7 linked regions of the Homo sapiens genome follow. The protein of the gene in region 5 purifies or fractionates together with the protein of the main gene of each other region. This does not show direct contact. Each region holds a gene or a part of one and is shown on either strand. Other genes may lie near its edges. The genes, in order: POLE, PFAS, DCTPP1, LRPPRC, DUSP26, ZNF99 and DICER1.

The links.
Region 1: the proteins of DUSP26 (region 5) and POLE purify together in Homo sapiens (affinity purification with mass spectrometry, with the first as the bait; one large-scale study listed by BioGRID). This does not show direct contact.
Region 2: the proteins of DUSP26 (region 5) and PFAS purify together in Homo sapiens (affinity purification with mass spectrometry, with the first as the bait; one large-scale study listed by BioGRID). This does not show direct contact.
Region 3: the proteins of DUSP26 (region 5) and DCTPP1 purify together in Homo sapiens (affinity purification with mass spectrometry, with the first as the bait; one large-scale study listed by BioGRID). This does not show direct contact.
Region 4: the proteins of DUSP26 (region 5) and LRPPRC purify together in Homo sapiens (affinity purification with mass spectrometry, with the first as the bait; one large-scale study listed by BioGRID). This does not show direct contact.
Region 6: the proteins of DUSP26 (region 5) and ZNF99 purify together in Homo sapiens (affinity purification with mass spectrometry, with the first as the bait; one large-scale study listed by BioGRID). This does not show direct contact.
Region 7: the proteins of DUSP26 (region 5) and DICER1 purify together in Homo sapiens (affinity purification with mass spectrometry, with the first as the bait; one large-scale study listed by BioGRID). This does not show direct contact.

What each region holds. Positions count from the first base shown.
Region 1 is NC_000012.12:132,625,803-132,628,342, reverse strand, and holds part of POLE (DNA polymerase epsilon catalytic subunit A), read left to right. Parts: intron 1-2,025; coding exon 2,026-2,226; intron 2,227-2,540. UniProt on the Homo sapiens protein: Catalytic component of the DNA polymerase epsilon complex. Participates in chromosomal DNA replication.
Region 2 is NC_000017.11:8,252,289-8,255,788, reverse strand, and holds part of PFAS (phosphoribosylformylglycinamidine synthase), read right to left. Parts: intron 1,931-3,500; 5' UTR 1,852-1,930; coding exon 1,710-1,851; intron 1,624-1,709; coding exon 1,488-1,623; intron 763-1,487; coding exon 657-762; intron 288-656; coding exon 98-287; intron 1-97. UniProt on the Homo sapiens protein: Phosphoribosylformylglycinamidine synthase involved in the purines biosynthetic pathway. Catalyzes the ATP-dependent conversion of formylglycinamide ribonucleotide (FGAR) and glutamine to yield formylglycinamidine ribonucleotide (FGAM) and glutamate.
Region 3 is NC_000016.10:30,427,231-30,431,169, forward strand, and holds the start of DCTPP1 (dCTP pyrophosphatase 1), read right to left. Parts: upstream 2,801-3,939; 5' UTR 2,751-2,800; coding exon 2,650-2,750; exon of another isoform or gene 2,625-2,649; intron 2,571-2,624; exon of another isoform or gene 2,359-2,570; intron 1,938-2,358; coding exon 1,827-1,937; intron 1-1,826. UniProt on the Homo sapiens protein: Hydrolyzes deoxynucleoside triphosphates (dNTPs) to the corresponding nucleoside monophosphates. Has a strong preference for dCTP and its analogs including 5-iodo-dCTP and 5-methyl-dCTP for which it may even have a higher efficiency.
Region 4 is NC_000002.12:43,989,490-43,992,989, forward strand, and holds part of LRPPRC (leucine-rich PPR motif-containing protein, mitochondrial precursor), read right to left. Parts: intron 1-3,500. UniProt on the Homo sapiens protein: May play a role in RNA metabolism in both nuclei and mitochondria. In the nucleus binds to HNRPA1-associated poly(A) mRNAs and is part of nmRNP complexes at late stages of mRNA maturation which are possibly associated with nuclear mRNA export.
Region 5 is NC_000008.11:33,593,927-33,597,023, forward strand, and holds part of DUSP26 (dual specificity protein phosphatase 26), read right to left. Parts: intron 1-3,097. UniProt on the Homo sapiens protein: Inactivates MAPK1 and MAPK3 which leads to dephosphorylation of heat shock factor protein 4 and a reduction in its DNA-binding activity. Inhibits MAP kinase p38 by dephosphorylating it and inhibits p38-mediated apoptosis in anaplastic thyroid cancer cells.
Region 6 is NC_000019.10:22,781,352-22,785,569, reverse strand, and holds the start of ZNF99 (zinc finger protein 99), read left to right. Parts: upstream 1-1,418; 5' UTR 1,419-1,553; coding exon 1,554-1,556; intron 1,557-4,218. UniProt on the Homo sapiens protein: May be involved in transcriptional regulation.
Region 7 is NC_000014.9:95,151,030-95,154,529, forward strand, and holds part of DICER1 (endoribonuclease Dicer), read right to left. Parts: intron 1-3,500. UniProt on the Homo sapiens protein: Double-stranded RNA (dsRNA) endoribonuclease playing a central role in short dsRNA-mediated post-transcriptional gene silencing.

The sequences.
Region 1 (2,540 bases), on a different chromosome or scaffold from region 5:
TTTAAGATGGAGTCTCGCACTCTCGCCCAGGCTGGAGTGCAGTGGCGCGATCTTGGCTCACTGCAAGCTCCCTCCCAGGTTCACGCCATTCTCCTGCCTCAGCCTCCCGAGTAGCTGGGACTACAGGCAAGCGCCACCACACCTGGCTAATTTTCGTATTTTTAGTAGAGACAGGGTTTCACCATGTTAGCCAGGATGGTCTCGATCTCCTGACCTTGTGATCTGCCCACCTCGGCCTCCCAAAGTGCTGGGATTACAGGCGTGAGCCACCGCACCTGGCCAAAAAGTAGTTTCTTGAGATGAAAGTGAACATTGTGGAAATGACAAAGGATTGAGAATATTCCATAAACTTAGTTGCCAAAGCAGCAGCAGAATTTGAGAGGACCGACTCCAATTTTGAAAGAAGTTCTACTGTGGGTGAAATGTTATCAAACAGCATCACATGCTACAGAGTCTTTCATGGAAGGAAGAGTCAGTTGATGCAGCAAACTTCATTGTTGTCTTGTTTTAAGAAATTGCCACAGCCACCCCAACTCTCAGCAATACCACCCTGATCAGTCAGCAGCCGTTTACATTGAGGCAAGACCCTCCACCAGCAAAACGATTGCGACTCACTGAAGGCTCAGATGATCGTTAATATTTCTGAGCAATAAAACATTTTAAAATTAAGGTACATACATTGTTTTTTAGACATAATGCTGTTATGCACTTAATAGACTACAGTATAGGGTAAACCTAAGTTTTGTCTGGGTAGAGTGACTCACACCTGTAATCCCAGCACTTTGGGAGGTCAGGGTGGGTTGACTGTTTGAGCCCAGCAGTTCAAGACCAGCCTGGGCAACATGGCAAAACCCATCTTTACAACGATTACAAACATTACCTGGGCATGGTGGCGCATGCCTGTCGTCCCAGCTACTGGGAAGGCTGAGGTAGAAGGATCAATTGAGCCCCAAGAGGTCAATGCTGCAGTGAGCCATGATTGTGCCACTGCAGTCCATTCTGGGTGACAGAGTGAAATCCTGTCCCAAAATAAAAAAAATCACATAGCTTTTTTTTTTTTTGAGATGGAGTCTCACTCTGTCACTCAGGCTGGAGTGCAGTGGTGCAATCTTGGCTAACTGCAACCTCCACCTCCTGGGTTCAAGCGATTCCCTGCTTCAGCCTCCCAGGTAGCTGGGATCACAGGTGCACCCGCCACCATGCCCAGCCAATTTTTGTATTTTTAATAGAAATGGGGTTTCACTGTGTTGGCCAGGATGGTCTTGAACTCCTGACCTCAGGCCATCCACCTGCCTTGGCCTACCAAAGTGCTGGGATTACAGGCGTGAGCCACCACAAATCACGTAACTTTTATATGTACTGAGAAAACAAGCGTGAGCCAAAAATCATGTAACTTTTATATGCACTGAGAAACCAAATAATTTGTGTGATTTGCTTTATTGTGATGTTAGTCCATTGAGGTGGTTTGAAACCGAACTTGCCATATCTCCAAGATACGCTTGTATTCAAGAACCATTTGTTGAAAAGACTATTCTTTTTCTATCGAATCATCTTTGTACCTTTTTCCATAACTTAGTAACCTTATCTATGTGAGTCTCTTTCTGGATTATGTATTCTTTTTTTCGATCTTGCATTCAATTTGCTAATATCTCGTTGCGCATTTTTGTGTCTGTGCTCAGGCTGTTATTGGTCTGTAGTTTCTTAGTACGGTCTTTGGTTCTAGTATCAGGGGATGCTGGCCTCATAGAATGGGTTGAGTGCTCTCTCTCTTCAGTGTTTTGAAAGATACTGTGTAGAATCAGCAGCATTTCTTCCTTAAATGTTTAGTAAATTCCCCAGGGAAGCCTGTCCTCACCGATGGAAAACTGCTAATGTAGAGAAGTCAGCTGAGGCGTCTAAAGGGACTAAGGAAGGGAGGAAAGGACACCAGGAAACTGTAGCCTAAGGTCCAGAGGGTTCTGGTCCAGACAGAGCAGCAGGGAGGCCCCGGGAGCTCCTTCCCGATGTGGGCTGTGGTCTCTGCAGGTGCTGTCCCTGGACACCAACATCACAAACCAGGTGAATAAGCTGAACCGAGACCTGCTTCGCCTGGTGGATGTCGGCGAGTTCTCCGAGGAGGCCCAGTTCCGAGACCCCTGCCGCTCCTACGTGCTTCCTGAGGTCATCTGCCGCAGCTGTAACTTCTGCCGCGACCTGGACCTGTGTAAAGACTCTTCCTTCTCAGAGGTGCGGCTGAGCTCCAGCGGGCCCTTCACTGTGGAGCAGAACATCCGAGGGCACTGCGGTGTCTTGAGGGCTTCTGCAGCTCCAGCTCTGTGGGTCACACCTGCTGCCCCTCTGACTCACATGGATTGGCAACAGGCCCCTTCCCAGGCCTCCCCACACCATGTTCGGAATGTTGTCCTAGGAAGGGCTCAAGTGCAGGTGGGAGGCCAGAGTGCGTGCAGCTGCACTCAGGAGACTCGCCCGTCACCAGGCGCTTCTCACAGCCCCTTCCTCTCCTGAGATCCTGCCCATGGCACTGTGGTCTGGAGGCTGGG
Region 2 (3,500 bases), on a different chromosome or scaffold from region 5:
GGAAGAGGTGACTATGGAACTCAGGCAGCCACATTCCAGATCTCAGCACCCCTACTGGCCTATCCTGGACCCTACATCTCCCTCCCCAGCTACTCACCAAGCTCCTGGTTGGCCTTCTCCAGCGCAAGCCGGCCCTCACCCAGTATATTGATAGGGCCATTGAGGGGTTCCGGCATGCTCTCAGGGGAGAAACTCTGGATGGGATGGGGGAAGTGCTGCTCTGTCATCCGGTCGTGCAGGGTAGCCAGAGCAATGGCTTCCACCTCAGCTGACGGGGGGTGGGCAAACTAGGGGTGCAGACACACAGAGGGCAAGGGGTGAAGAGTTTAAGAATGGAGAGAAATGGTCCACCTTCCTACCCTCTTAGTCATGCAAGGCTAGCCCACTGCCACACCATATGGCACTTTTTCTCAGATTACAAAAAGACGCCCTTTCCAGGTATGAATCCATGCCAGGATGCACAAATTAAAGGAAGCATAGGCTGGATTTCTGCCCCATTTACCCCTCAACCAGGTACTTTCAGGCAGTGAACAACTTGTACGACCATACAGAGCAGGCCTAAAGCCAGGAGCACCTGTCCCTGCTTCTCTCTAGAGCTTAGGATCTAATCTTGTATCTCTGGCTCATCTCCTCCTCCTGATTCCCCATCACCTCACCGAGAGCCGGTAGCGCCGGGTGGTCTCCACACGATCCACAGGCCCCAGCCCAGTGGCGCGGCACACTGACACGATGTTGGTGGATGTTGGGGTGGAGAAGTTCAGCCTGAACAATGGGCCTGATGGTTAGGACTGGAGAACCCCCGGCAGGCCTCAGCTGGGAGGGTGGATCCTGCCTACTGCTGTCTGGACAACCTCCCACCGCTATCCCCTCACCATTGGCTTTCAGCCTCAGGCTGGGCAACAAGAAACCTGCTTTTAAAGTACACTCAAACCAAACCAAAACTGTCCTCTAGCATCAAAACTATTTGATTTTTTTTTCTTTCTGTGAGGCAGAGTCTTGCTCTGTTGCCCAGGCTAGAGTGCAGTGGCGTGATCTCGGTTCACTGCAACCTCTGCCTCCCGGGTTCACACCATTCTCCTGCCTCAGCCTGCCTAGTAGCTGGGACTACAGGCGCCCGCCACCACACCCGGCTAATTTTTTGTATTTTTAGTAGAGACGAGGCTTCACCGTGTTAGCCAGGATGGTCTCAATCTCCTGATCTCGTGATCTGCCCCACCTCGGCCTCCCAAAGTGCTGGGATTACAGGCGTGAGCCACCGCGCCTGGCCAAAACTGTTTGATTTTAACTTGGAATCTAATTTATTTTGCTTTGAGAACATGTTTTGGAGCAGGCTAGGTCTTTGGAGGGATCTACCCAAATGGGGAAAGCACATGTGTGGTTTCCTAGGCAGGAAGTAGCAAAGAGCAAAGGAAAAGCAAATCTCCCAAGGATCACAAGAGGAAGCAAAGGAAAGCAGAAGAAAGGGGTGGGCAGGATGAGATACTTACCTGGGCCCGACCTCCAGCAGCAGGTCATTGGAGCCAGGAAGGAGCCAGGACTCCCGAGCAACATCATCCAGCAGTAAGGGGCAACCAAACAGCCACATCAGCTTCTTTGTCTCCTCAGCACTGGGGAGGGCCTCAGCTGCAGGGAGACAGGGCAAGGACACCTTGAGACACTGCCCCCAGCACCGAGGCATGTCCCCCAAGAATCTAATACCTGGGCCCAACCTGTCCAGTTCACGTTGTAGCACAGTTCAGTCTCGACGCCCTGCAGCTCTGGCAGTTTCCCTTGCAGTTTCCTCCGAGTGTGTCCAGGGGCTGCCCCCTCATGGCCAGAGGGACGAACATAGAAGTGAAGGACTGGGGACATCTCTGCAGGTGTCCTTTGCTGGAGAGAGGTGTCCTTTGCTGGAGAGATGTGTCCTTTGCTGGAGAGATGAATTAGGTTCCTAAAAAATAACATTAACTAAGCCGGGCGTGGTGGCTCACATCTGTAACCCCAGCACTTTGGGAGACTGAGGCAGGTGGATTGCCTGAGGTCAGGAGTTGGAGATCAGCCCGGCCAACATAGTGAAACCCTGTCTCTACTAAAAATATAAAATTAGCTGGGTGTGGTGGCGGGCGCCTGTAATCACAGTTACTAGGGAGGCTGAGGCAGGAGAACTGCTTGAACCCGGGAGGCAGAGGTTGCAGTGAGCCGAGATCGCGCCATTGCACTCCAGCCTGGGCAACAAGAGCAAAACTCCGTCTCAATAAATAAATAAAATAAAAATAACATTAACTATGGCCTATCTGTTGAACTGATTTCAGATTTCAAGGAAAATTGCGGCGTTATGGATAGGGTAGGGGAAAGTAATATGGACATTTAGAGAAACAAGGTAACCTGAAAAATGTAACCTTGGAGATTTTAAGGAATCTTGCAAAATGTGGTCTTTATTAATGTGGTAGGGAGGTGTACAGGCACACACCTGACACGTGTTCCTGGAGTACATGCACTTTGCTGGGCCCCAGTCAAGGTCTTAGAAACACCGCTGTGAATCAAGACAGAAACTCTGTCTGCTCTCACAGGGTTTATATTTTATTGGGGGAGAAAGGCCAAGTACCCAGACATTTCCAGTCCCGTGTGGTGAAGGTCAGGGGACTGTGGACACCAATCCTGCACTTCAGGTGTCAGGAAAAATTTCCTGAGAGAAATGGTATCAGCCATGGATTGAATGTTTGTGTATCTCCCCCTCCCAATTCATATATTGAAACCCTAATCCTCAATGTTATGGTATTTGGAGGTGGGGCCTCTGGGACGTAATTAGGTCATGAAAGTGGAACTCTCAAGAATGAGCTACTAATCTCACCAAACCTCTTATAATCTGCCCTTATAAGAAGAGGCCAGATTGGGCGGGGCATAGTGGCTAACACCTGTAATCTTAGCCCTTTGGAGGCTGAGGTGGGAGGATTGAGCACAGGCGTTCGAGACCAACCTGGGCAACATGGCAAAAACCCCATCTCTCTCAAAAAAGATACAAAAATTTGCTGGGTGTGCTGGCATGTGCCTGTAGTCCCAGCAACTAGGGAGGCTGAGGTGGGAAGATCACTTGAGCCTGGGGAGGCGGAGGCTGCAGTGAGCAGTGATCAAGCCGCTGCACTCCAGCCTGGGCAACACAGTGAGAACTTGAGATCAGGAGTTCCAGACCAGCCTGACCAACATGGTGAAACCTCATCTCTACTAAAAAAAATACAAAATTAGCCGGGCGTGGTGATGCGTGCCTGTAATCACAGCTAATTGAGAGGCTGAGGCAGGAGAATCACTCGAACCCGGGAGGCGGAAGTTGCAGTGAGCTGAGATCGAGCCATTGCACTCCAGCCTGGGCAACAAGAGTGAAACTCTGTCTCAAAACAAACAAAAACAAACAAACAAAAAAGGATCTCTGATCACAAAGCTTTTGTTTAAGAATTTATTGCTTGATGATATCATGTCATAAATTATTTATTTATTTATTTATTTTCTTTTTCTTTTTTTTTGAG
Region 3 (3,939 bases), on a different chromosome or scaffold from region 5:
TGATCTCCTAACCTCATGATCTGCCCGTCTCAGCCTCCCAAAGTGCTGGGATTACAGGTGTGAGCCACCCCGCCCAGCCCCTTTTTTGTTTTTTTTTTTTAAGGCAGAGTCTTGCTCTGTCGCCCAGGCTGGAGTGCCATGGTGTGATCTTGGCTAACTGCAGTCTCTGCCTCCTGGGTTCAAGCGATTCTTGTGCCTCAGCCTCCTGAGTAGCTGGGATTACAGGCGCCCGCCACCATGCCTGGCTAATTTTTGTATTTTTAGTAGAGACAGGGTTTCACCATGTTGGCCAGACTGGGTCATCACCTTGTGTTCTTTTCCTCATAGAACTTGTCATAATTCCAGATCTTCTAATATGAGATTACTGATTTACTGTCAATCTCCTTCCACTGTGAAGGTGGAAACCTTTCTGCCTTGTTCCAGGCCATATCTCAATTCTAGAAGACCTAGCACATAGGTGATGTTCATAAATCTGTCATGAGGCCATGTGCAGTGGTTCAACCTGTAACCCCAGTGCTGCGGGATGGTGAGGCAAGTGAATCACTTGAGACCAGGAGTTTGAGACCAGCCTGGGCAACAACAGCGAGAGATCCCATCTCTACAAAAAGTAAAAATAAATTAGCCAGGCTTGGTGGTGGCGCACGCCTGTAGACCCAGCTACTCCGAAGGCTGAGGTGGGAGGATCGTTTGAGCTCCTGAGGCTTCAGTGAGCTATGATCACACCAGTACACTCCAGCCTCAGCAACAGAGTGAGACCTTTTCTCTTAAAAAAATGACTGTCCTGGTCTAGGGCTCATCGCCTCTTGCCTGGTCTACACCAGCCAACTCTCTGGTGTCCCCTGCCCCATTCTCTCAGTGATCCATCCAATCCACCCTGTAGACACAGTGACCTTTCCAACACTCATATCTGGTCAGGTCTTCTGTCCAAACTCTCCATCATACTCTAGCCCTAATCATATCTTTGTGGGTTCAACTCCCACCCCTCTCCTCCACAGCCCTATCACTCATCCAACGTGTGCCTATTGAGCGCCTACTATGCGCTGGGCACTTGGGACACATCAGAGAAAACAGATCCCAAATCCCTGATTTTTCCTGAGATGCTTACAATGAAGGAGCGTCAGATTCTCCCTGAATTGAACTTGCCCTTTCTTGCCTCACTGCCCCTGCAAATGTAGTTCCCATGTCTGGAATGCCACAGGCAGGTCCTCTACAGAATACCTTCCTTTCAGCCCCAGAGGCAGAGGAAAAGGGTTGTTGGGCCAGGCGTGGTGGCTCACCCCTGTAATCCCAGCACTTTGGGAGGCCAAGGCGGGTGGATCACCTGAGGTCAGGAATTTGAGACTAGCCTGACCAATATGGTGAAACCCCGTCTCCACTAAAAATACAAAAATTAGCCAGGCGTGGTGGGGGGCACCTGTAGTCCCAGCTACTCGGGGGGCTGAGACAGAACTGCTTAAACCCAGGAGGCGGATGTTGCAGTGAGCCGAAATTGAGCCACTGCACTCCAGCCTGGGCGACAGAGCGAGACCCCGTCTCAAAAAAAAGCCAAAAAAACAAAAAACAAAAGAAGGGAAAAGGGTTGTTGCCACTGCTTCTTCCTAGACGGGACCTGTCCTGATGCTTTCACACCTCACACCTCTCTCTTCCAGGAGGCTGAGTGCCCCTAGAGGGCAGGGACCCGTGAGTCCTCTCTGCATCCCAACAACAGCAAAGAGCCTAGCAATCAGGAGGGGAAACTGAACCCATGAATGTTTGAAGACCAAATAAATGCTCCCCTCCCCTCCCCCACAACTCAGACTCTACCAGGAAGCTTTCCATCTACTCACAAGAGTTCTGCCAGCTCCCCCACTTCCCCAACCAAGGCCAGGAGGAGATTCCGAGGCTGATGGAACTGTTCCCAGTCTCGTTCCGCAGCAAACTCAGCATGGAGGCGGCGGCTGAAATAGGACAAAGGAGTGTAAGTCCAAGTCTCCGGGTTAGAGGGTGATGCAGGGGCCAGAGGCAGCTACCCCCGTAGTATGTAATGGGGCCTGGGACCAGGAGATTCTGCAACTAATTCATTGGATGGTATTGTGCAGGTCATTTCCTCTTTCCGGAACTTGGTTCCCTCATCTATAAAATGGGCGTGCCCCTGAACTGCCCTTAACATCTCGCCAAAACTAACAAAACCCTCTTCATTATTCCATCTCCTGCTGCTACTTCTGCAGTTTCCTCCACCTGGAATCGCCGCACATCAAAATGCAATTTCTCTTACAGAAGGTAGTTCCACAGACCCTTCCTCTAAGAAGCCTTTCTTGACCTCCTCCAGCAAAAAATAACGTCTCCCACCTCTCAGCACTTCGTTTGCCCCTCTCGTACCCCCGGCGCCTGGAGAGCAGAGGCGGTATCTGGTGCCGGTATCTTCCCAGGGCTAGGCTGAAGGGCGTTCCTAGTTACCACTCGGAGGCACCACCCAATTTCCCTTGCCTCAGGTGTGCACCGCTGCGCCCATTTTGCAGATGAGGTAAGAAGGCTCACCCAGGGACAGCCCACAGAGCCAGGACCCGAGCCCCGCTGCCAGCCCGCTTCCCGACCACGTGGAGGAACCCTCCCCAAAACGCGGGAGAAAGGGGCGACTTCCCCACCCCGAGCTGGGCCAGGCCTGCTTACATGTCCTCGAGCGTGGGCTCCGGGCTGAAGCTGAACCGGCCGGGAGCAGCAGTGTCCTCTCCCCCCGTGTCCCCACGAATCTCCCCACCGGCCACAGACATGCCGCCCACCGCTGCACCGCGACTTCACGGAAAACCCACGAGCCACGCTCGAAGCCCCGCCTCCAGAGCTCCGACCAATTACGGGAGTTCTCTATTGCCTCACGGGGCGGAGCCTGAGGAAAGAGACCAATGACTTTTGTGGAGTTTGCTACAGCCCTCCCCTTCCCTCACTGGACCAATCTGAGGGAGCTTCAAGCGCGCGTTTCTAGTCTTAGGCCCTGGAATTCTTCCGCTAGGCCCTGTGTCTAAAGGTAGAGGTACCAATTCGACCTGGGGAAGAGACGAAGGGCAGAGGGTGGGGGAAGCGCAGGCGCGTCACTTCGTTTATGGGCGCCAGAGGGCGCCAAAGCGAAACGGCAGCGGAAGAGGGCCCGTCAGGTGGAAAACCCTATAAATGAAAGGCCCTATGCATAGGTATTAAATCAGGGCTTAAGGACGTTGAGAAACCTCGAGGCCAACCCCCACACTATTTGGATGGGATTGAAGGGGAAGAGCGGAGTAAGATCAGACGGCAGTAGGACTTCAGCTCCCCGCCATCGCTGTGTCCTGTGGTTGAAACGATGGAGGTCGCCCCATCCCTGTCCTAAGGGAGGCAGTAGGCCCCAGCGCAACGTACATTGCCCTGAAACACGTGGCCCCTTATGGTCTGGCCTGTGCCGGCCTCTCCAGCCTCATGGGTCCCCAGCACGGCTCCTCCACCCCACACACGAGAACTCCAGGCTCCACTCACACCAGGGAATACGCGAGGTGGCGAGTCACAGGGTTGCTGCTTTCAAATCAGAACCACTGAGTTATTGGCCATGGGAGGAGCAGAGATCTTTATGAAACCCTAGAACAGGTGTAGTCTTGCAAAGAATGATTTATTATTGTACCCTTATTAGGGCTACTATCTCTGATTTCCACGTTTAAAGAGGCTTCCAGCTTGCTGGAAGTGAAAGCGTAAGAAAGCGCAGGAAGAGGCAGAGTCAGATTTTGGAAATTAAAATCCCAAGGCTGTGACAATTGCAATTCTAGGTATATGCCCTAGAGAAATTAATGAATATGTGCAGAGAGACACATGCAAGAAGTTCATTACAGTTTTGTTTCTAAGAGTGAAAAAAATTGAAAATAAAATGACTATCAACGGAAGAATGGCTACATGGAAGTATATTTATACAAATGATATTATCCAGCAGTTAAGATTGGATAC
Region 4 (3,500 bases), on a different chromosome or scaffold from region 5:
CTTCAGAATCTATGAAGATCCCTTCCAGATACATTCTGAGATCTTCTATGTTTACTTACCTGTGAAAGTCTTTAAATCCCAAGTTTATATCATATATTGCCTTTTAAAAAATGTTTTTGTCCATAAGTAATCCCTTCACCATCTAAAACACAACAGTCTGGACCTCATTCTGCACCCAATGATAACTACCATGGCAGTTAACTGTAAACAGGAAAATGACAAGATCAAATGTGTAACATATGTAAAACACTTGTAACATATGTTGCAACATATGTAAAACATTTCAGAAACGGGAATCACGGTATCTGGAGTTGAATCTCAACTTGAGGTCTTGAATAAATTATACTTCTAACCCTGTTTCCTAATTTGTAATAACCCACGGAAGTTGAAATGTTTGTATGATGTTATGTTTACAAACACACTTTGAAAATAATAAACATCAGGCCAGGTGCGGTGGCTCATGCCTTTAATCCCAGCACTTTGGGAGGCTGAGGTGGTGGATCACCTGAGGTCAGGATTTCGAGACCAGCCTGGCCAACATGGCAATGGCAAAACCCCATCTCTACTAAAAATACAAAAATTAGCCAGGCATGGTGGCATGCGCCTGTCGTCCCAGCTACTTGGGAGGCTGAGGTGGGAGAATCGCTTGAACCTGGGAGGCAGAGGTTGCAGTGAGCCGAGATGGCCCCGTTACACTCCAGCCTGGGTGGCAGAGCGAGACTCCATCTCAAAAAAAAAAGAAAGTAATCAGCATCTATTCTAAAGGTACCATTGTTTACCCTAATCCCCAAATCTACTTTTCTTAATTCTGCTAACACTCTCACCAATCTTCTGTTCTCTTTCTCTCAAGAAACGGATCTTTTCGTCAGTTCTTTACTACCTCGTTGAAGGCCTATTACTGCTAATTTGCAATACCAGTGTTGTTCCATCCCCACGTTCCTATAATCTACATAAACTTTGTCAAAATCTGTACTTAAAATCCTCCAACGGCTTCCAATCATCAACTAACCTACCTTCTAAGCAATCTTGGTAGCCTCAAGAAATCAACTTCCACCACATCCCACACAGCTACACGGGATAAACGGCCTCCAAGTCTCTTCACGCTCTTCTCTATTTTTGGAACATTCTGAATATCCACTACCATGTGTCCTCTAAAACTCAATGTCCCCCTGCCATAAAACAAATGGCACTGCTCCTCTCTCTGAAATACCACAATATTATATTCTTCTCTTATGGACAGCACGTCTAATAGTTGTACATGTGCCTGTCTAGCCCTGTGATTGATAAATCTACACTCACAGAGCAGAGGCCGAATGTTACAGATTTCAGAACCCCAAAGGACCCATCAGGTTCTTTTTTTTTTTTTTTTTAATTGAGATGGAGTCTCGCTTCGTAGCCCAGGCTGGAGTGCAATGGCGTGATCTCGGCTCACTGCAACCTCCACCTCCCGGGTTCAAGCAATTCTCCTGCCTCAGCCTCCCAAGTAGCTGGGATTACAGGCATGGGCCACCACGCCTGGCTAACTTATGTATAGATACTTTTATTTTTTTTTTTTTTTGAGATGGGGTCTCACTCTGTCACTGAGGCTGGAGTGCAGTGGCCTGATCTCTGCTCACTACAAGCTCCGCCTCCCAGGTTCATGCCATTCTCCCACCTCAGCCTCCCGAGTAGCTGGGACTACAGGCGCCCGCCACCATTGCTAATTTTGTTTTTGTATTTTTAGTAAGAGACAGAATTTCACCATGTTGGCCAGGCTGGTCTCAAACTCCTGACCTCAAGTGATCTGCCCGCCTCGGCCTCCCAAAGTGCTGGGATTATGGGTGTGAACAATAGTACCCAGCCGGACCCATCAGATTCTTAATATTTGCAGAAGATTTTTCTAAAATGAGAGTTTTCTAAAAGTTTTCTTCCAACTTTAGAAATAAAAATCACACCATCCCATCAAAGAACAATATGTAATTTTCACCTTTAGGCCAATCATTAGTCTAGATCTACTTCCAAACAGATTGAGCTCAAAGCTTATCTTTCCTCTGAAGTATACAAGTATTATGCTAAAAACCATCACACAAAGAATACACACACAAAGCAGCTCTGATCCAGAAATGCAAGGAAAATGTATGTGACAAAGCAAGAGTATTTATCACCTCAAAGAGAACAGAGTAAAAGCTGGTTTTCCAGAAAGCATCTATTTGAAAAATAGATGTACTGAGATGGGAAAATGAAGAGCAAGACCACATATTACAAAGTAAAAGGATATACTTCTTGGTGCTACAATTTTGAAAACAGATTACTAATGTCTAATAATTTCACTCACTAATACTCATTTGTCCTCAAATAGGACATTCCTGGAAATCAAGCTCAGGGTGAATTTGTGTAGACACACTGCACTGCATGGGTGGGTTAAGCATCCCTTCAATCTCCTCCAGTTTACCATATTCCTTCTTCAATGTCTTAAGATTTTCATTGATTCACTCAACAAACATTTGACACCTACTATATGCCACAAAGTTAAACACCAGGGAAAGCAAAAGGAGTAAGACACAGTATCTGCCTTCAAGCAACTTACAGCCAGCTCCAGAGTGTTGGTGAGTGCACGTCATAGTGTTAATGGGTGCTTTAGTGATACACGGTCTAAGAGGAGGCACAAGAAAGGAGCCAGTCAAATGGGAGAGGCAGTCAAGTTAAGGTTCAACAGAGATGGGGGACACCTGACTAAGGGGGAAGGGGAGACACATTCCAAGAGTCAACATTACACTCAAAGGCAAGGAAATATACAACATGGCCCATCAAAGCCTTACAGATCCACAGACAAGCACTAGACCTACAAAATCAGAATCTGCAGTTTAACGAGAGCCCCAGGCAATCATGCTCACTAGAGTTTGAGAAGCCCTGCTGTAGAGCACTTCAAAGTAGTAGTCTGGTACGGCTAGAACGCAGGATGCCATGGGAGGGAACTCAGAAGAGTTGACGCTCCAGAGGCAACTCCAGCTCATAAAGCACCTGTGCTAAAGAGTCTGGATCTCCTTCTGGACCCAATGGGAGCCACCACAATGCTTAAGTGTAAGCAGGAAAATGACATGATCAAATTATCAGGGAGACTAGGGAATGATGAAGGGGCTGGAGGAAAAGGGATGCATTCCAAATGAAGCAGATCTAACAGGGCTTAATCATTTGTGCAATCAATAAATGGGGGGTGAAGGGAGTGAGAGATGAATGGGAAAACAAATATGTAGATATCCAGGATCTTTCTGGAAGGCAGGTAGAAACAGCAACATTCACGAAAATAGGGAACACAAGAGGAACAGATGAAAGAAGAAGGAGGGGTCCAATTTGAGCTGTGTTGGCTCTGAAGTACCTATAGTTCAAGCAGGTGGATGTGTAGTAGATGGTCCATATCTGGGAGAAACATCATCAGATAGGTAAGTAATGCCCTGAAAAATGGAAAAGGTCACAAAAGAGAATGAAAATGTTGAGAAAACACAGAAGGACCACGAGTAAAA
Region 5 (3,097 bases):
CTCCTGCCTCAGCCTCCCGGGTAGCTGGGATTACAGGCACATGCCACTATACCCGGATAATTTTTGTATCTTTAGTAGAGATGGGGTTTTATCATGTTGGCCAGGCTGGTCTTGAACTCCTGACCTCAAGTTATCCTCCCGCCTCGGCCTTCCAAAGTGCTGGGATGACAGACGTGAGCTACCATGCCTGGCCTCCTGGATCCTACTATTGGCCTAAGGACACTACTTTACTTACTAGTGATCCAGAAGGGAGGAACCAAGATGGGCAATGACTTGGAGTCTTGTCCTGTGAGCCATGGTTGAAGGTATAGGGGATGTTTTGCCTGGAGAAGAGAAGACTAAGGGGATGGGGTAAAAATAGCCATAATAAAACTGAAAGTGTGCGGCCGGGCGCGGTGGCTCACGCCTGTAATCCCAGCACTTTGGGAGGCCGAGGCGGGCGGATCACGAGGTCAGGAGATCAAGACCATCATAGCTAACATGGTGAAACCCCATCTCTACTAAAAATAGAAAAAATTAGCTGGGTGTGGTGGTAGGCGCCTGTAGTCCCAGCTACTCAGGAGGCTGAGGCAGGAGAATGGCCTGAACCTGGGAGGCGGAGCTTGCAGTGAGCCGAGATCGCACCACTGCACTCCAGCCTGGGTGACAGAGCAAGACTCCATCTCAAAAAAAACAAAACAAAACAAAACAAAACTGAAAGTGTGTTTTCTGGAATTGAGATTGTCTTGGATCTGTAGGGTTCTCAAGGGTACAATGAGGATCAAGGAATTAAAGCCCCAGGGAAGCAGATTTCATTTTTTTTTTTTTTGGGAGGTGGGACAGAGTCTTGCTATGTCTCCCAGGCTGAAGTGCAATGGTGCAATCTCAGCTCACTGCAACCTCTGCCTCCCAGGTTCAAGCGAATCTCCTGCCTCAGCCTCCTGAGTAGCTGGGATTACAGGTGCCTGCCACCATGCCCGGCTAATTTTTGTATTTTTAGTAGAGATGGGATTTCATCGTGTTGGCCAAGCTGGTCTCGAACTCCTGACCTTGTGATCCACCTATCTAGGCCTCCCAAAGTGCTGGGATTATAGGCGTGAGCCACTGTGCCTGGCCAGCTGATTTCAATTTCATACAAGGAAGTACATTCTAATGGTGGAGTCTAGCTGAGGAAAGGGTGGAGAACCTCGAGAGAGAGTGGTTTTCCTGTCCCTGGGGTATTCAGGCAGAAAGAGGAGATGGCCATGTAGCCATGGATGCTGCAGAGGGGAAATGAATGTCAGGCAGATTGTTCTGCTCATTTCATCGGTCCTGCTCACTCTGAGATAGTATGGTTCTGACATCCACTTCCACACCTAACTCCCCTATGTCTCTACTCTTGTTGACACCCAGAACCGTCTTGTGTTTTTGCCAGATATTCCATGGCTCACATTTACTGTGACTGTGTTTTTTTTTGTTGTTGTTGTTGTTGTTTGTTTTTTTTTTTGAGATGGTGTCTTGCTCTGTCACCTAGGCTGGAGTGCTAGAGTGCAGTGGCGCGATCTCGGCTCACTGCCACCTCTGCCTCCCGGGTTCAAGCAATTCTCTGCCTCAGCCTCCCGAGTAGCTGGGATTACAGGTGCCCACCACCATGCCAGGCTAATATTTGTATTTTTAGTAGAGACGGGGTTTCACTATCTTGGCCAGGCTGGTCTTGAACTCCTGACCTCGTGATCCATCCGCCTAAGTATCCCAAAGTGCTGGGATTACAGATGTGAGCCACCATGCCCGGCCACATTTACCCTGTTTTATGACGTCACCTTCAGGTGTTCATCCGGCCCAGACCCCTCAGCTTGGTGGCAGACACCCCTGGGCACCACAGTCATATCTCAGGGCAAACTGAGTTGCCCTGTCCAGTGCAAACTCCTTAAGCAGAAAGAGCACTGAACTTGAGCCTCCAAGCCCGGGCTCTGCTACTTACAACCCGTGTGACCTTGGCCAGGCACAACTTCTCTGAGCTTCAGTCTCCTCATCTGTAACCCAGGGAGAGTGATACCTATCTCACAGGGCTGTTGTGAAGATTAAGAGAGATAATGTGTGTGAAAAAAATCCTTGTAGGCCAGGCACGGTGGCTCATGCTTGTAATCCCAGCACTTTGGGAGGCTGAAGCAGGTGGATCACTTGAGGCCAGGAGTTCAAAATCAGCCTGGCCAACATGGCTAGACGCCGTCTCTACTAAAAATACAAAAATCAGCTGTGTGTGGTGATGGGCGTCTGTAAGCCCAGCTACTTGGGAGGCAGAGGCAGGAGAATTGCTTGAACCCGGGAGGCGGAGTTTGCTGTGAGCTGAGATTGGGCTACTGCACTCCAGCCTGGGCAACAGTGAGACCCTGTCTCAAAAACAACAACAATGCTGGGCACGGTGGCTCACACCTATAATCCTAGCACTTTGAGAGGCCGAGACAGGTGGACTGCCTGAGCTCAGGAGCTCAAGACCAGCCTGGGCAACACGGTGAAACCCCGTCTCTACTAAAATACAAAAAAATAATTAGCCGGGCAAGGCGGTGTGTGCCTGTAGTCCCAGCTACTCTGGAGGCTGAGGCAGGAGAATCGCTTGAACCCGGGAGGTGGAGGTTGCAGAGAACCAAGATCGCGCCACTGCACTCCAGCCTGGGTGACAGAGTGATACTGTCTCCAAAAAAAAATAAAAGAAAGAAACCAAAACCAAAACAAACCAAAGAAGCAAAAGAAATCCTTGTATAACTTTGAGGGAGAGAAGTGGGGATGGCTCTTCCTTTGATGTTTTTCTCTCCATAGCCTTCAAATTGCAGAATCTCTGTAGGCACTGCCGCTTTGCTTGGTCTCAAGAGAAACCACTGCAGCTTCCTACCTACTGCTCCTGGCTTCCAGTGGCTGCCTTTTCCCAGAGACATTGCACAATAGATGGAAGGTCAGAGAAGTCATCTATTGTGCCTGGTATGTAGCACTGGCATGTAATAATAAATATGTGATACATGAATGATATTATTACTGGAACAGAGTCTTTCTGTCCAGACTTGGGTATTTTTATTTTATTTATTTTATTTTAAAATAATAAGTAGAGATGGGGTCTGGTTTTGTTGCTCAGGCTGGTCTAGAA
Region 6 (4,218 bases), on a different chromosome or scaffold from region 5:
TGTAATTGGTGCCTATACTCACACAGTCCCCCATACCACAGGAGAAAACAGATAACCACAGCCTGACCATTAGGGCCAAGGACAAATAGAAAAGTAAGTTTTCCTTTAATCTATTTTCTTCATATCTAAACATTGGAGGTCAAGACTGTGCACAGATTTGAAGACACAGAGATTTCTTCTCCTGTGGCCTTACCATCCTTAGTTCACCTTCTGATCTCTGGAATAAAGGTAGGCAACAGGTGGCCAGCAGTGGTCTACCTGTGGTTGTTTTTTCCTGCTGTCCTGTGCTTTATTTATGGCTACTATCTGTTCCTCCCTCAGAGCTGAAGAGAGATGTTGGTAGGGAAAGGCTCTTTTTCCATCTTTGGCAGAAAAGGTTTGTTCAGGCCCTTCCCTCTCCTAAGGTCAGAGCTGCACTTCAATGTGGCAGCTACTGGCCATGTGTGGCGACTGAGTGCCTGGAATGTGGCTGGTCTGAACTGTGATGTGCTGGAAAGGTAAAATACAGAGTTAGTTTCAAAGATGAAGTTCCAAAAAATATCTACACTTCATTTATAATTTACATTTTGCTTACGTATTAAGATGATATTTTGGATATATTGGGTTAATTAAATTGCTACAATAAATTCCACCTGTTTTTTTTTTTTTTAATTTTTAAAGTTTGGCTACTAGAAAATTTAAAATACAATTTTATTTCAGAGGATTGCCTTCTTTTTAAAACCTCAGGCAATCTGATGAAAAAACCAGAAGCCAGGAAGGTCATAAACTCTGAAAATTTTAGATAATTGTTATATTCTTTTCATTTGTGAATAACCATATAATATATTATTTATAAAAGAATGTGACCTTATACAAAAGGTTAAATGCAAATACCCTCTGGGGTTGGCCTGGCTCAGTTCAGGAAGGAAGCCCTGCCTGAAAAGGCTGCAGCCTAGACTGTCATCCTTTCCTTTCTTTTTCTTTTCTTTTCTTTTTTTCGTGACAGAATCTCGCTCTGTCATCCAGGCTGGAGTGCACTGGCGCGATCTCGGCTCACTGCAACCTCCGCCTCCTGAGTTTAAGCAATTCTCGTGCCTCAGCCTCCGGAGTAGCTGGGATTACAGGCGCCCGCCACCACACCAGCCTAATTTTTATTTTTAGTAGAGACCGGGTTTTGCCATGTTGGCCAGGCTGGTCTCCAACTCCTGACCTCTGGTGATTCACCCGCCTCGGCCACCCAAAGTGCTGGGATTACACGCGTGAGCCACCGCGCCCGGCCCGTCACTCTTCATTCAGCTCAGCATCAGATCACATCTTCTGTCACTCAGGGCCTGAGGAGGCGGGGATTTAAACATTATCCAATCAGGGACTCTGGGCTGGGAACCGTCCAATCAGGCACTCAGCTGGAGCGGAAAGGGCGGCTTGTGGGATGTGGCGGGGCCGTTGTTTCTGGTTCCAGCTGGAGCTCCGGATCTCGTTTTTACTGCTCTGTGTCCTTAGCCTCTGTGGCCCTGTGACCTGTAGGTATTTGGAGATCCACAGCTAGGACGCCAGGACCCCCTGGAAGCTTAGAAATGGTGAGAGTGCCGGGTCCGATATCCTGAGAAGGGGAAGGGGCTGACTGGAACCGGTGGAAAGTGGCTGTGGCGGGACTCAGGCCTCCCCTCAGTGAGCTCCACAGTCTGCGCCCCGAGCTCTTGCCCAGCTCGGCCTCAGTCTCCTTCAGCCATAAGATGGCGGCTGCGCTGACTGCGGGACCCCGGGCGACCTGCCTCCTTCCTGCACTGTGACTATGCCCTGGCCTGGAGCCCTCTCTGGGCCGCTCTTCACCCGCAGCGCCTCCTCTCTCACAGATTGTGCAGGGACCACGGGAGGGGCGTCAGGGGAGAATCCTGACTCCGGGTGCGGGTTCATGAATGGGAAGAGCTTTGGTCCAGTGAGGTTTCCAGTCCCTCTTTTCTCCTATTAAAAATTGATGGCAGTCATCACTAAAGTAATAAAGGATTTAATCAAAGAGTGATTCAAAAATGGCAGAGCACCCAGCTGTGGTTTGTAGTTTATGGTCTATGGAAGGGATTTGACGGAAAGAGTTTTATAAGGTGCATAATGAAGAAAACCAAATTCAGTAATGGGTTATGTACAGTTACGTAGATTCTTAATTTGTACAATCAAGATGGAAATTTCCCGTTTATATAATCAGAGGTTAATTGTAGTTTATAGTTGGTTAAGCCTGAATTTTGTTTCCCCCAATGTAGTAATTTACAAAAAAAAAAGCACTTGAATTATTAATATTTTTTTCTTTCTTTTTTTGAAACGGAGTTTTGTTCTTGTTGCCCAGGCTGGAGTGCAGTGGCGCGATCTCGGCTCAACGCAACTTCCGCCTCCCAGGTTCAAGCGATTCTCCTGCCTCAGCCTCCCGAGTAGCTGGGATTACAGGCATCCGCCACCACACCCGGCTAATTTTTGTGTTTTTAGTAGAGACGAGGTTTCTCCGTTTTGGTCAGGCTGGTCTCGAACTCCCGACGTCAGGTGATCTGCCCTCCTCCGCCTCCCAGAGTGCTGGGATCACAGACATGAGCCACCGCGTCCGGCCGAATTAGATTTTTTAAAAAGTAGATTATCAGGCCTGGCTCGGTGGCTTACACCTGTAATCCCAGCACTTTGGGAGGCCGAGGCGGGTGAATCACGAAGTCAGGAGTTCTAGACCAGCCTGGCTAACATGGTAAAACTCCGTCTCTAATAAAAATACAAAAATTAGCCGGGAGTGTGGCAGATGCCTGTAATCCCAGTTTCTCGGGAGGCTGAGGCAGATAATCGCTTGAACCCGGGAGGCAGAGGTTGCTGTGAGCTGAGATTGCGCCACTGCACACCAGCCTGGGCAAGAGAGGGAGACTCCCTCTCATATTAAAAAAAAAAAAAAAAAAAAAAAGGCCAGGTGCGGTGGTTCATGCCTGTAATCCCAGCACTTTGGGAAGCCGAGGCAGGCGGATCACCTGAGGTCGGGAGTTCAAGACCAGCCTGACCAACATGGAGAAACCCCATCTCTACTAAAAATACAAAAATTAGCCAGGTGTGGTGGCACATGCCTGTACCTGTAATCCTAGCTACTCGTGGGGCTGAGGCAGGAGAATTGCTTGAACCCGGGAGATAGAGGTTGCGGTGAGCCGAGATCGCGCCATTGCAGTCCATTCTGGGCAACAAGACCGAAACTGTCTTAAAAAAAAAGAAAAAAAAAAGTAGATATCAGGCACTAGAGCCACCTCAGTCTATTTGCCTGCCACTTAATTATTTTTAATTATTTTCACACTCCTCAGATGACTGATTTTCCCCTCCATTTTTTACAGGTATCTCAAGCAGAGTATTATGTCTACTCCCAAACCCCAATTCCTGCAGCCTAACTCTGGCTTGCAATAAAATACTAAACTTCCAGTTCATAATGTCAATTTTCCCTCTCTGATTCACATTACTATTTGTCCTTAGTGTACATTTTGATACTGTATTTTATTTTTTAACAAAGCATTGGATGGTACTTTTCATAATATTTGTTTTCTGTTTGTGAATATTTCCTAAGAGAAGAAAGCAAAAAATAATCCCCTGACACTGTGTTGTAAAAAATCTTTGTGCCGCTTTTTTTTTTTCCTCCTTGCTCCACAGATTTTAGCAGAATGTTTTGGGGTAAAGGTAAAGGTTTTCCTTTGGAAACTTTATGATGTGTTTTCAGCCATTCTTCAGTTTTTTCCCTGGTCCTGGGTTTCAGTACTGTCTGGGAATTAGCTAAAATATTCCCCATGGCTATGTCTGCTAGAGTGTCTAGTGAATATCAGCTCCTGGTCATTTTCTCCAGTAGGACAACCTGAGGTGTGGAGTGTAGCCTTTCAACGAAGAAGGCAGATGCCCTGGGGTTGAGAGGTCTCTCCTGGTATACTCTTCCTTTGAAAAGCTAACCCTTGAGACATTAAGATTGTCTTCACCCAACCCAGCTTCCATTTTTTGAAGACACATTGCTGGTCAGCCAATCAGATGCTGGTATTGCGGGGAAAACACAGAAATAATTTCTGCCCCCTGCATTCTTTAAGGGAGCAGAACAATAGTGAAATATAATGAAAAAATAGTGAAAGAAAAATAGTGAGAATCTGTGAAATCAAAAATAGTGTCCCAAACGACAAAAAAAAAAAAAAAAAAAAAAAGTGACCCCAATGAGATGGTGTAAGAACTTGAAAAGTTCTTACCTGGGGCACT
Region 7 (3,500 bases), on a different chromosome or scaffold from region 5:
AAACCTGAATCTAATCATAAGGAAACATAAAACCTAACTTGAGGTTTATTTTACAAAACACTTGGCTTTATACACTGAATTGAAGTATGATTTCAAGGATGATGTGTTAATTCATGCATAGCAGATGAAGAATGTGTTATTTAGGGAAAGTTAAGAGACGTTTAAGGCACTGTTACATTTGGTATCACTACTACAGAGACCAACTAAGATAGCTGAACCAGTATAGATAATCCTCCTCGAAAACTTGTCTGTAAAATATTGTTCTCAAGCCCTCTTTTCCTTCATCCTCCATTATATTACTAGACCATACATTTCAATATTGATAATTTGGGGGCTCACAATATAATCTAATCACATTAAGACTATTGCATGTTAAAATTTTCTCTAATACACGTATTTAAAAGAAAAATATTACATTAATTTTATCAAATGCTAGTTATGTACCATGAGAGTTTAAGAAACTCCTTTTTTTTCTCAAAACCTCAAGAGGCAAACACCACTACGACAGTTTATAGACAAGGAAGCTGAGACTCAAGAGACGTTGCCATATGCCCAGTGCTCATCGGCTATAAAGTCGAAGAATCAGGATTTGAACCCTGGTCTCTCTGACGCCAAACACTTGCTCTTAAGCATCCCTACAAAGCTATGATAAAACATTAATATTTAACTCTGCAAAGTGGAAAGAACTTAAAATACCATGAATCAGAGCAACTGACAGTGATGGCTGGGCAGCAGGATGCATAAGAGGCGGACAGGCTGTGAGTTCATCATGTTAATCTCACCTCCCAGGATGTTACCAAAAGAGGAAAGACAGAAATCCTGCAATCTCGAAACATCTCAGAGGACTAAATACGACTAAATACGACTACTACCTTTCTTTTTCCCTTCAAACAGGGTCATTTAACTTCTTAATCAAAGAACCTTCCTACATCATGTCAAAGATCAGTTTTTAAACTAAGAGTCTTCTCTCATTATTCAAGTTCTCTAAGTACAACCGGTTTGTTTTCTTAAAATTCTGAACTGGTTAACAGACCTCATTTTCTAATCCTCAAGAATTGTTCAAATGTGTTGTTAAAACCCCTGCTTTATGGCATACATTGAGCTGTCAAAGAACGAACAAGCACAACAGAGTTAGTCTGTGCCAACAAGGAGAAAGTCTGCAATACAGTTAAACTCCAATTTTGACGGCGATTTTCTCCCACGATTCTTAACACTTCCCTCAGTCTGCAATGTTTCTGTGCACATAATCATACGTACCTCACAAAGCAAAAAGGACCAAGTAGCATGATTTGTCCAAAAGCAGAATAGTAATAATCTTTTTAAAAGCCTTAATATGCAAGCAATATTCTTCCCCACAAAACTGTGTTAGCTTCTAAATACTTCAAAAAGTATTATAAATTAACTTACTCACTCAACAAATCGGAGTGTCTCCTATATGTCAAGCACCATGTCTGGTAATGAACATGCATGAAGAATCTAATCCTTACTATTCCATAAACCTTAACACAACCAAGAACATGTAATGCTGTTATAAGCCTAAAAAACAAAAAGAAAAAACTCTAAGGCCAAACTTAAGCCTGTCATGTCTTACTTCTAGTAACAGTCTTACTGACATCCTCAGAGAATGTTTTGTAGCATCTTCTTAGTCACTTATTTAAAATGCATATTGAGGTAACTGCATGTTAAAGGAGTACCAACAATTCATTGACAATTTTAGATGAGGAAGCCATTTTGCACTCAGAATTATTTTAACAAAGGCTTTATTACATAACTGAAAATGTCAATTTCACCAGCTACATCTCAAAAATAATCTTTTTCTTTCTGTATTAATTCATCAAGTATACACCACGATACAACCAGTCTTACTTTTTAGACCAACACACGTTCCTAAAGACTGGGTGAGAGGGCTGGGCACGGTGGCTCACACCTGTAATCCCAGCACTTTGGGAGGCCGAGACGGGAGGATCACGAGGTCAGGAGATCAAGACCATCCTGGCTAAACACGGTGAAACCTCATCTCTACTAAAAATACAAAAAATTAGCAGGGTGTGGTGGCGGGCACCTGTAGTCCCAGCTACTCGGGAGGCTGAGGCAGGAGAATGGCATGAGCCCAGGAGGCGGAGCTTGCCGTGAGCTGAGATCGCACCACTGCACTCCAGCCTGGGCAACGTAGTGAGACTCCGTCTCAAAAAAAAAAAAAAGACTGGGTGAGAATTCCTATTTGGAAAATCCTCACTGCCCATGTTGTCCACAGAGCTTATTCCTGAATGGATTGTTATTTAGCATCTGTCAACAGCCTGAATGAGACAACTGATATTCGAGGGACACCACCCAAAAGAAATTAATGAATCAAACCACTGGAACAGTGAACACCTGTATTACTAAAGCTTTTCTATTATGCCTGAGGCTTTTATCCAGTTTCTCTAAAATGGCATGTGAAAAAATGTTTCTCTATCGTTTGTAAAATGTAAAACATTTTCTCCATATATTGCTAATGTTATTTAATGTAATAATCCAAAAGATTGATTATTCTTCATACAAGAGAAAAATCTGCTTCAAATTGGTATGCTTCCTTTCATTAATCAACGTGAGTTACATGCAGCACTCACCTTTCCTTGCCCCAATCATTCATCTAATTCTCTGCCTCCACATTCTATACTACCAACCTTTACCATTTTCATAGTACTCTAATACTTTCCTATTATAAGACCATTTCAAATCCTTTCTCAAAATAGACATCATAAACTATTAAATAAATGTACTAATACTAGAGTCTTAGCAGAAATTTGGAAGAAGTGAAAACTAGCCATCAAAAAATCAAAAGGTCCAAGCCCCACAGGCTAAGGAGGTGGAATACCAAGAAAATAATGCTGCCTCAGAAGACTAGTCATTTGGCAAGTCGTAAATTGCAAAGAAACCTGTGAATAAGAGCGAGTATAATACATACACTGGGCTTTCAGGATGAACTAAGCTCTTGAATGTCCAAAAAGCACAGCAAAAGGTAAACAAAATAAGTCACTTGGCTCCAACTTTCTCTTTATACAAATTAAAGACCTCACCAATATCTTCCTCTGGCATTCAATAAAGCACATCACTCCATGTTTGATCAGTTTTTTGAATACCTGCCAGACACTATGATTGGAACCAAGATCGTAAAAAGGAGTCGACCCTGGGCTTCAGAGAGATTACAGATTTTACTGACAGAGGAGTTGTTTGTAGGAAATTATCACTGCTTGGAGGAACCCTGAGAAAACTCATACTGCAATAAATTCTGAGTCTAGTCTAGTGTTTTGAAGATCAAGAAACAATGTGACCACTTTGAGGTATATGTCTAAAAGAAGGGAAAGCATGGACTCCAATGAATTATTTGTATACCTACGTTCACAGCACCATTATTCACAGTAGCCAAAAGATAGAAGCTACCCAAGTGGCCATGGACAGATGAATGGATAAACAAAATGCAGTATATTCATACAATGAAATACCATTCAGCTTTTCCA